Homo sapiens: one gene and its partner. The protein of the gene in region 1 interacts with the protein of each later gene in a pairwise test. Each region holds a gene or a part of one and is shown on either strand. Other genes may lie near its edges.

What was found.
Region 2: the proteins of WRNIP1 (region 1) and TRIM14 interact in a two-hybrid assay, tested with the Homo sapiens proteins (one study listed by BioGRID).

What each region holds. Positions count from the first base shown.
Region 1 is NC_000006.12:2,775,138-2,782,429, reverse strand, and holds part of WRNIP1 (ATPase WRNIP1), read right to left. Parts: intron 3,168-7,292; coding exon 2,938-3,167; intron 1-2,937. UniProt on the Homo sapiens protein: Functions as a modulator of initiation or reinitiation events during DNA polymerase delta-mediated DNA synthesis. In the presence of ATP, stimulation of DNA polymerase delta-mediated DNA synthesis is decreased.
Region 2 is NC_000009.12:98,083,835-98,088,496, reverse strand, and holds the end of TRIM14 (tripartite motif-containing protein 14), read left to right. Parts: intron 1-491; coding exon 492-1,027; 3' UTR 1,028-4,144; downstream 4,145-4,662.

The DNA of each region.
Region 1 (7,292 bases):
GAGAGCAAGCGAAGATGCTGGCCTCCCACAGGGGAAAGACCTGCAGGACCCACGGCTCAGCCTGAGTGATTCTGGTTTCTGAGAGCCAGGGCAGATGGATGGGTCAGCCCAGCTACTGGATTTCTGAGAACAAACTGAGTGTCTCCTGTGCAGGGCTCCCCTGGTGAAGTCAGAGTGCTATGGACACTGGCCGAGAGGGTGTCCTGGATGACATCTGCATGGTTCTGGCCCACTCCCTCACCCTGCTGGCCCAGGCACTCAGGCTACGCTCTGCTCCTCTGCAGGGTGGAGGAAGGCGGGGAAGAGGGTAGCAGGTAACAGGCCTGGCTAAACTCACGGGCATGGGGGCTGGAAGAAACTACCCACACCACTTTATGTCAAATTTAAACTCCCCCTACACAGGTTAGTCATCTTTTCCCACTTTGTCAATGCCAGGGGCAATACCACCAGTATAATGGACAAGAGCACAGGCTCTGGGACCAAACAGCCTGGGCTGGACCCCCAAGCTCATGGGCCATGGGCAAGTTCCTGATCCTCACTGTGCCTCAGGTTTCTCATCTGTAAAATGGGAAAAACGAGACCACTTACCTCACAGGGCTGTATTAAATAACACACGCCTGGCACAGAGCAGGCACTGTAAAAAGATTCTTTTGCATCAGTGATAGATACTAGTATTATTCTATGCTACCTTCCATGTTTGCTTTTATTACACACTGCTTTATAACCTGAAATCTGACGACTTCTATAGAACCCCGATGTCAATGCATGGCAGAGAGTTTGCTCTCATTTAGAAATTCCTTCACTCTGATGCAGAAACATCACTGGATCCTACTAGTGGGTAACTATGAACTAGGTGGCATATACAAAAATAATCACAACTCTGGGGGTGGGTCTTTGTCTCACTGGAGTTATAAAAAGGCCCAAGAGTATAAGCTAACAGGTTTCCAGGGCAATGCTTCCACTATCCCTATTTATAGAGCAAAGCCTGTAAAAGCAGCTTTCTCCAAGATCTGAATGATATTTATGTGTCTGCGGATCCACTGTGGGGCAGACATGTTGCACTGGGGTGGGGTGTGTAAACACACTCATACTGGGAAGATGTATAGGATGTGGGGTTCTTAAGGCGCTGGCACTAGGCAGCGGCACTAGGCAGCCTCCACCACCCCCCAGCTCCAAGCTATAGACAAGGTGATCCCCACTGTGCAGAGCTCTGCAACGTGGAGCTCAGGAAGTGGGATTCCTAGGACTGAACCCCTCCAAGATCCGCTCTGTATGTGCATGGACGGGTGACCCCTCTCAGGAGCATGATGTAATGGGTGAGATCAGTAACAGCATGGCAAGGCTGGTGTGGAGGCAAATGCGGACGGGGGGAAGGACAGTCTTGGGAACCAGTAAGACCTGGATTTACGGGTCAGTTTCACCACTTGCTTTGTTATCTTAAAATGGGGGTAATATTAATAGCTATCTCCATAAAGCAATTTTGAGAATTTAAAAAATGAATACACCTATAAAATACTCAATGGCTGAGTGTTAGTGAATGCCATGTTATATGGATCTCAAGTGACAGTCTGATAAAATGTCAAAGAACAGTCCTAGTCGTTCCAATCAAAACAAGGCAAATCCTTTGGGACACCTACAAGAAGAGAGAGAGAGACCGCTGCTGCTGCACTTCAGAAACAATGGCGATCCCGGCATGGTGAGATTTTTTTAATGTCTTAAAATCTTTTTTCTTGTTCATATCTACATTTTTTCTATTTGACCAAAAGTCAAGCAGGGCTCTACACACCTAGAATGTGTTGCTTTTCAGACTTTGCAAGCATTCACGTCATGCTCCAGAGCACTAGGGAGAGCCAGCCATCTGAGCAGGCCCCGCTGAGGCACATTCACGTCACAATGTAGACAGGATTATTTATTCAACTTGCCAGTGTGTCCTTAGCACTAATGAACACCCCTGAGCTACCATCAGCTGAGGCACGCTAAAGCCAAAAAGCTTTGGTCAGCCCCCCTAGGTCATGCAGCGAGTGTGCTCACCCACGAAGAGGCAGCGCTTGGAACCAAAGTCATTCTTAAGCCCCTCCACCCCTTCTCTAACCAGTAAGGACTCTCCATTGTCACGTGGCACAGCCTACGTGAGATCAGGAACATTCAATTATCAGCCTCCTTTTCTGGCAGAGCTTTGAAAAGTGTGGAAATTATATTCCACAGTTACTGCAACATGATTCCATCCAAAGTCCCACAAATGCTCAAGCAGCAGAAGTTTGCTAATCTACAGTATGTTATATTCATCTCCCACTTCTTTTATAAAAAGATGCAAATGTGCTGTGCTAATGACATTTAATATTGCTAAGTCACAGATTTAATAAGAGCTGGTATCAAATCTGCTATCTGTAAATGCAGTTCTACAAAAACAGATAAGTGCACACAGCAAAATTAAATTTTTGAAAAAGCTACTACATAAAATAAAAACTTCAAGATCCATGACTATTTTTTAGTATAGACTCTAGAAATAAAGCATTTTAATTCTCAATTAAAACTAATAAGTCATTATGACAAAAGTCCTCTTTTTATTTACTGCCGTTGTAAATGATCACAAAACATATTCATTGTCAAGTGAATGCACAGGCTTTCAAAGGTGATTGTATTCTGCAAGGTGGGGAATAGCCAACTACCTTCTAAGGTGAATGTGCAGCCTGCCATTTCCAACCCCAAAACTCCTCTAGATTCTCAACAGGGCAGCTTCTGCTTCATGCCTCTCTTCGGAAAGGTCAGCCCTGTGTAGAAGGCTTAATACCAACATGCAGATCCACCTGAGAATCACTGGAATGCTCTGGACCCAGCTGGAATGCTTCCGGAACCCAGTCAGGCTTCCGGAAATGAGAATGTGTGCACACACTTCTTTCCGTATGGTTTCACTCTTTCCACAGGTGAATTACTTACCTGCCCGGTCATATAAAATGTGGGATCGCTGTAGGCCCTCCTTCACGTCATTCTCTGTGATCAGAACTCTACTGGGAGAATAGGATTGCCCACTCTTCTTACAGAACATCTTCCTAGAGCTTAACCTAGCCAGCACCGCCAGCTGCAGTCCGTTCAACCCAGCTCGGGCGTCACCGTCACTGAGGTAAGCCAGGGTGTCTACTGCTTTATCCTCTATGAACATGGCGGGCCTGAAACACAAGCAGGGTTAGTTACGGTCACACTCAGGCTGCATACTTCTTGTTCTGCACATGTCTTAGAAACTCATACTTCTCAGCAAGGACACTGAAGAGTTCAAGGCCTTTGCCTCTTATTCTCACCTTTGTCAATGTGCTTAAGCATCATCAAGACTACGAACTGACTGGGGCTCCTAAGTCACCAGGTTATCGCCCTGTATCTTATGAGTGTCGAGGGTATCTCACTGCATAGGTTCATACATCTAAGTCTGTGTGAAACAGACACTGACTGGCCTGGAAAGTCACTGTTGACAGGTGGTCTCTCTGGTTCTACCCTGCACAACAGTGAAAACTTTATTAGAAATGCTAGCACCTCATTACCGTGTATGGAAAACATGTTCCAAATGCAGCCTACATCCGATGAGACAGATGTGCTTAGACCACTTTCCACACAGGGGAGAGTCAGCATTATATCTGAATATTAGCTCTGAAGGGCTCCAGATCATGCAGTTCAATTCCTTCATTTTAAAAACAACAAATTGGGTCCCTAGTTACTCTGAGCACAGCAGGTCCTAGAAGCAGGTCTCAGGATTCTCTTGGCCTGGGGAATCTTGGGATGCTGCAGTAGGTCATCTCATAGTGGACACTAATCATGCAAAATCCGCACAGGGTAGCAGAGAGGTCATTAGCCTGGGAAGCGACGAGAAGACTGCTGGTACATAGCCATGAGACCCTGGGTAAGCCACCTAACCTCTCTCTGAACATCAGGACTAAAACTTACAGTCACATTTCTAAATTTGGACCCTCATAAATAAGATCTAACTATGATCAGAAGGCTGACTCAGTAAAATTTTCTATCCCTAGTTGAGTTAAACAAGACATCTAACACATTTCATAACTTAGTGGGGTCTTATTCCTGGCTGAGCTGCTAGCTGCACATTTGTGAAGCAAAAAAATAAAATTTTTCAGTTACAGTTCACCCATGTCATCAACATTCAGCTGAGAACATCTACAGTAAATAATAAGCCCATTAGGACTGTCCGAATCAGCTACCTGGAAAACAATGTACAGGCACCAACGGGGCTGGGCCGGGGAGGGGTGGCAGTTTCCGAAGGGGACCCAGCTTGCCTGCTGGATCAATGCAGAACTCCTCAGCATACACCCACTCACTGACACTACTCTGCTCACTGAGTAACCCAAATAACACCAATCTGCATTTCATTCACGGAAGGATTTGTTCCCAATGCCTTAAAGATGCCTCATCTCACCCCCATATTTACCAAAGTTGATTTCCAGTTATTCCTTGTGGGTCTCTCACCACACCTAAGACAACTGGCCAGCCCCAGCTTTACAACAAATGACTCTCTCCTCACTCATGCCAACTGCCTGGGCCCCAGAGCCAGTGGTGCAGCCTGGAGACCCATCTTCCTCTCTCCTGATGGTAGCATTCTCTCAGCAGACCTCACCAGAACAACAAAAAAACAAACACCGAGGCCATGTCACTGGCACTCTATAAAGCCTGGGGATCACTGCTCAACCAGAAATTAGTTAGCAAGTCTTCTGGAAGATGATTTAGAAGATAATGATGGACAGAACATATACTAAAGAAAATGTATGGGGAAGGACCAGCATCACAGGGGTGTAGCAGTACGTGACATGCCTGAGAGGGAAGGGTGCACTCTCAGCCCCTTACTGCACTCAACCTGTGTGGGAAGACAGGTAGGGAGAACAGAAACTGCTTGGGCATCTCATTTCTGCCTCAGAACTAGTAAAAACAATGGATTCTCTCTCCTTGGAAAGCTGCCTAGCAACAAAAAGCCTTCAGGACAATTGAGGGAAGAAAAAGGAGTCAAAGCAGGAGCCCCATTGGATCCTAACGGACTGAACTAGCCTATATCCTGCACCATGGGTTGGATTGTGTGTTGATTACATTACATTCATCATCCCTACTATGCGGAGCACCTCAAGGAGAGGAATATTTTATTCTTTGTATTCCCAGACCTGGTAGATGATAGGCATCCAATATTTGCAAAATGAATGGACTAACTTCAGTTTTATCATAATCTCAGAGTGAAACCTTTACTTCTTATAAATTATATGGAAAGTATAGAGAAAACAAAAAGAATCCATATTTCCAGCACTGAGAGATAAAAATGTACTTGATATTTCCAGCAGAATGAAAGCTACTGTGCCAAGTGCTGACTTTACGATCCACTCACCCATGCAACCATCAACCTTACAGCTAACCTAAAACAAAAACTGGGACCATATTTTACATAGTTTTACATCCTTAACCATTAAATAATTGTTTGAAAAACAAGCTACTCAGACCTGTCAACATTTACTTTAAAAAAATTTACATTAAATTTTAAAAATAGACAAAGGGAGAAAATTCACCTTCTGCTAGACTACCTTGACGTTAGTATTTTGGTATGTATCCCTTCTCCATGAATTTGTCTTTTGTATGTATTTAGGGGCATGGCATGCTCTTTGGACAGTGACGAGATGGGCAGCCTTATATACCATGGTATTTACTAGTATAAACTGCCTCATTTCCATTAGTCCTCATATACAGACAGGGAGGCAGGCCTTATTAATTAGGACAGAAGCCAGCTAGCCGTCTACTCCATTGATTTATCAACAGTATGCTGTGAATAAGTCTTTAGCAATGATTATGTATTTTATGTGGTTGGAAAATAAGGTCTTCCTTTGGCTTTTAAACTCCTGACCAAAGTACAAGTGGTTCCACACTTCTGGTTTGGAGTCATGGGGAATGGAGGTGCTGCCACAACGAAAGCTACCTGAGCTCGCGCCACTCCCTTCTTCTTCCTCCCCTTGGGTATAATCCACATTTTAAATTTCACCCCGTCCAAAAGAAGAAAGTATTTCGAGGCCCAGATCAATCTGTCGGCAACTCTGTCCAAGTAATACAGGACCTGCTGACAGCACTCACAATGATCACACAAGAAAATTACAAAATGGAGATTCACTGTGAAGACGACTGAGCAGGGAAAGGTTCCACTTAAACACCCAATATATCTTGAACTCCCATTTACTAAGTTCTGAAGAACGAAGTAAGATATACTAAAATACCCTGAGATCTTAGAATGGGAAGCCCATGAGAGAACTCATGCCAAGAATGATGAAGGGATAGTTGTATTGATATTGGCAAAATCCCTCAGCAAACTGCGGCACAAACTATTTTGAAAGAGTGTTCCCAGTCTAGAGAATTTACAATTATTTTTAAATTTAAGCATATATTAAAATTAAGCATATATTTATAAAGTGTTTTGCACTTAAAAATAACCTTCCAAAGGTAGAATACAATAAAAAGAGGTAAAATCTATTCTGGGGATAGACTGCCCAAAATGTCATAACATCCTACATGGAAATAAACAATAGGAAGTAAATTATGTTGTTATAATAAAACACTATTTATAATAAGGGAAAATTGGTTAAAATAAATGCATTGGAAAAGATTCTATTTCTAGTTAACAAAACCTAGAGATAGAAACAGACTTAAGAGAGCTTGGCTTCTCCAACTGATGAGAAGGGCTTTAATTTTAACAGAAGAATATAGGAAGCTCTCTTCTTTCCTCTTCCAGGTGCCTAAATCCTGAAGCTTTCTACACATTGGGTAATACTGGAATTTGGAGGATACTACTTAGACAGCTGGATATGTAAGTTGGAGAAGGAGTGCAGTAAGTAAAAATGTACCTGTTATTTCAAGGCAGAATGAAAGAATATGCATGGCTTGGTTAAACTCTCCCTCTCTAAATTACAAACCAAACCCCACAAATCTCTTCCACTAAGGAAAAGGAACATTTCATGGTCAGGGTGATAACTGCTGTGTAGAAGTTTCAACCAGGGATATGCATCAAGTTAGACACAAATACAGCCACATGTACCTTACCTACCATAGACTGAGCTCAAATCTCCAGGGGCAGACCCTGGGCAAGGCATGTTTCTAAAATGTATCCCAGGGAAGTGTGATGTGCAGATCTGGTTAAAAGGCTCTCCTGCTGCTCTTACACAAAGAAGTGCCAAGAGAGAAAAGTCAGAACAGAAAAACCGAGCAGTGGGTCCATCCTCTGTAAACTTGGCACCTCCACCCCTTGTAGCACTTGAAGTCACTGAGAA
Region 2 (4,662 bases), on another chromosome or scaffold:
TGTAGTCCCAGCTACTCGGGAGGCTGAGGCAGGAGAATGGCCTGAACCTGGGAGGCGGAGCTTGCAGTGAGCGGAGATCGCGCCACTGCACTCCAGCCTGGGCAACAGAGCGAGACTCCGTTTCAAAAAAAGAAAAAAAAGAAAAAGAAAAGCTATAAAGCAGCAAGGGGAGGGGAAAGATAGGAAGTACACACACCCTAATGTTAACAGTGATAGGATTAGTTTTAATTAAATTTGTATTAATTGGCAACAAATTTCACGGCACAAAATACAGACAGTATAAGGGATGTGCAGCAGAGTGATCTCTTCTTCCCCTTTCCCCAAGACCCCGCCCCAGGGGCAGTCGCGGTTTAAAGGGGTCTGTCACCCCTTCCTTGGGCCATTTCCGCGCTTCGCATTTTGTGATTTGCACGTGCGTTGGTGGGTTCCCGGGGGCGGGGCGCCGCGCTGGCCCCGCCCACCAGGTGCGTCCCTTGTCTCGCCCCCTGCAGACGCGCGCACGCCCACGCTGGATCCTGACACGATGCACGCGCGCCTGCGCCTGTCCGCCGATCGCCTGACGGTGCGCTGCGGCCTGCTGGGCAGCCTGGGGCCCGTGCCCGTGCTGCGGTTCGACGCGCTCTGGCAAGTGCTGGCTCGTGACTGCTTCGCCACCGGCCGCCACTACTGGGAGGTTGACGTGCAGGAGGCGGGCGCCGGCTGGTGGGTGGGCGCGGCCTACGCCTCCCTTCGGCGCCGCGGGGCCTCGGCCGCCGCCCGCCTGGGCTGCAACCGCCAGTCCTGGTGCCTCAAGCGCTACGACCTTGAGTACTGGGCCTTCCACGACGGCCAGCGCAGCCGCCTGCGGCCCCGCGACGACCTCGACCGGCTCGGCGTCTTCCTGGACTACGAGGCCGGCGTCCTCGCCTTCTACGACGTGACGGGCGGCATGAGCCACCTGCATACCTTCCGCGCCACGTTCCAGGAGCCGCTCTACCCGGCCCTGCGGCTCTGGGAGGGGGCCATCAGCATCCCCCGGCTGCCCTAGGGGCCAGGACCGGCGTGACAGCCTCCAGGTACGCCGCAGCTGCCCAGTCTCGCCTAATCTACCTAGATCAGCGTGGCTGGTCCCCTTACTGCCTGCTTCTTAGGGCCCTCTCCCTGCCCCAGCTTTCCCCGACCAATCACGCCTACAGTGCTTTGAAGGTTTCCTCTCCTAGGCTAGTTTCAAACAGGCCCTAAACAAGTCTGCTGCTGCCCTCTCATCAGACCTCCGCACCCTCACCCCACCATCACTTACACTACTTTAATCCAGTTCCTTCAAAGTGATACCCCCACAGGTAAGCCCTCAGCATCCTGAATACATCATCCGCAGCCTGGGAACCTTCTCCCTCGTACAGCACAGGAACCTGACACATAGTAGGCACACAGTAAACGTTTGTGAATGAATGGGAGTCATCCAGTCCTGACTCTTCTGTCTCTTGAGGTCCCTTGAATCTTCCGCTTCCTCCCCACCGATTTCAGCGTGTCCACATCACAGCTCCCTCCAGAAGCTGCAAGAGCTTCTTAGCAGTTCCTGGTCTGAACCCTCTCCCAGTCCTCATCTTCCACCCTAAAACTAGAGTGATCTTCCTAAAACTTCACTTAACCCCTCAGCTATGAAAAGGCTTCCAGGAGTTTCCATGAAATAACAAAAAAAAATACAAGCGCCTCACCTTAGCATTCAAGGCTTGTCTAGTCTGCCCAAAATTACTTATCCTCACCTAGCTCCTACCACTCTTCTTAGAGACTCTCCAGTCAGAAATGTGTCGCATAGTTCCACCTCCACACCTCTCTGCTGCCAGCACATTCATGCAGAAAAGTCTTTTCACCTGTCTCAGTCTTCCGCAGGCTTACCTGCGCCAGGAAGTCTAACCAAGGAACAAGAATCTCACTATCAGAGCCACAAATCTGGGACCTGTCTTTCCAACTAAATTGGAGGCTTTGGAAGGGCAGCTTTGTCCTATACTCTCTCCACCCTGAAAAGTTCCCAGAAAGCCCCTTCCCTCCCAAGCAGTGAATTAATAACCAGCAGGTGCCTATCACTGAGTAACAGAAGAGCTGAGTTAGGCGGGCCTCACAGGTCACCCAGCCAGATCTCATCTGGGGAGTCTGAGGTCCTGAAAGAAAGCAGAGCTGCGTAAAGTTACCCCGGGGTGATATAGGGGGGCCAGACGTGTGCCCCGTTCACCCACCCCCAGGCAAGCATCTGACCTGTCCCCTGGCCCAGCCCTTAGGCCCAGCTTTCAACCTGCTTACTCATTTCTCAGGGGATTTTGGGAAGGAATCAGCAGGTGACAGTTGCTAAGCAACCAAAGGGGGTGGTGTTTCCCAACTGTCTTGGGACAAAAAGGGTAAGAGCACCCTTAGATCCAGATGTTGCCAAGGAAACCCAGAGTGCCCAGCTGTCTGGAATGAAGTGACAGAGGTAGAAAACAGTAGGCCCTCACAGGAGGCCACCTTCGCTAGCAGGGAGTGGGAGGCTTCTTTCCAGGGATTTGTGTCTCCGTTCTGAAGGTTCTGCGTCCTGTTTTGTCAATTCCCTAGACGGTTTTGAAGTTATATTCTGTTAAAGCATCTTCATAGGTGCTTGGTGGGAGGCCAAGGTCGCCGAATCCTCGTGGTTTAAATAGACTTTCAGTGCATTAGTTTGAACCATATAAAACTGACAATTTTCAATAGTTTTTGAGTTAAAAATGGCACTTTTGATATGAGACAATGTAGCAGAATACCAGGCAGACAGAACCTTGCAAACACCTTAACTTCTAACCAAAGACTTTAAAACTCTGGCTGGACAGAGTTTTAAGCACTATGCTGCAGGAATCCTGAGAAAAAGGGGAAATTAATTCTATTAGGAATGGCCCAAACTGAATTGTGACAGGCAGAGGGTGTTCCTGACAGAGGGAAGATGAATACACTTGACCCCAACATTTCTGCCCATCCCTGATGACCAAGACCTCTTCCCAGACCCACAGCTGCAGGGGCCAAGTAATAACAGCTCTTAATAGTTTATAATGCACTGTTTTAATGCTTTACGACTAAACTCATCTGATCCTTTCATCAGCCCTAGAGGGTAGAAAGTTTTCCCAATTCTACACATGGCAAAATGGAGACCCAGAGTCACTTGCCCAAGGTCGCACAGCTAGTGGTGGAGCTGGAGTCTGGGCCCAGGCTGTGAGTTCCAGGTCTGTGCTCATGGCCACCAGGCCCTACTGCTCAGGGTGAATGCAGCTGGTCTCTGGCCAGTGCCTGGTGCTCTGGCCCCTCTCGTGGAGCTACTGCCCATGATGCTTTCCTAGTGCCTGGTTACTCTGCGAGACTTGAGTCTACCTTTGGACTGCCTTCCTTGGGGGTCTGAGATGAGGCCTTATGGCCCAGAGGGGAACTTGATTCAAAAATTTGGGATTCATGTAGCAGAGACAGAGCTAGACTGTAAAGGTCACAAACTAGCTGTGTCAAGGCCCGTGATAGCCAGAAAGCGGCAGTTTCAGTCCATATCAATTGTGTGACCAGGGCTAGTCACTTTTTACTTCTCAGTGCCATCTATAAAATGGGGATAATAGCACTACCTACCAAGTGCTGTGAGGCTCAAATGAGCCAAAGGTTATAAACTTGCCTTAAAACTATAGTCCTATACAAAAATTAGCTGGGCGTGGTGGTGCATGCCTGTAATCCCAGCTACTAGGGAGGCTGAGGCAAGAGAGTTGCTTGAACCCAGGAGGCGGAGATTGCAGTGAGCTGAGATTGCACCACTGCACTCCAGCCTGGGGACAGAGCAAGACTCTTGTCTCAAAAAAAACAAAAAAAACATATATACTGCTGTATCATGCCAGGATTTATCAGCATTCCCAAGGGAGCTTGCACGGTACTGACCGAGTGCTGAGACTACTGGTATTCCCAGCTGCCATGTGGCAGCAGCAGGAGCTACTAGAATATTCTCAGCACAGGAATGAGGCTTCCTTGGTTTCCATGTCTGTAAGGGTTACTGATCACTTACCTTCTTCTCTTTCAGACTTGAATCTGTAGACATTTCTTTATTGATATGGCAAATTGCTTGCAGATATTTTTAAATGACAGCAATTTTCTAATATTTGGTTTAATAAAATGTGAATAATGTCCCTTTTAACCATGGTCTTCACTGGGAGTTCATGTTGCTTCAAGTCCCTAGCACCCAGTGATACCCCCACAGGTAAGCCCTCAGCATCCTGAATACATCATCCGCAGCCTGGGAACCTTCTCCCTCGTACAGCACAGGAACCTGACACATAGTAGGCACACAGTAAACATTTGTGAATGAATGGGAGTCATCCAGTCCTGACTCTTCTGTCTCTTGAGGTCCCTTGAATCTTCCGCTTCCTCCCCACCGATTTCAGCGTGTCCACATCACAGCTCCCTCCAGTTCATGTTGCTTCAAGTCCCTAGCACCCAGACCCAGAAGGGCCTTTACTCATATCTTATTCCTTACGCAGCCTTCTGGTAGTAGTCAGCTGCTCCCTGATTAACTATCTCCAGGGATGGGGCATTCACTGCTTCTGAAGATAACTCATTAAAGTTCTCACTTACGTGTAAACAAACCCTGACTCCCACCTGTTCCCATCCAAGATCGTATTATAGCTTGAACTCCTGGTCTCAAGCAATCCTCCC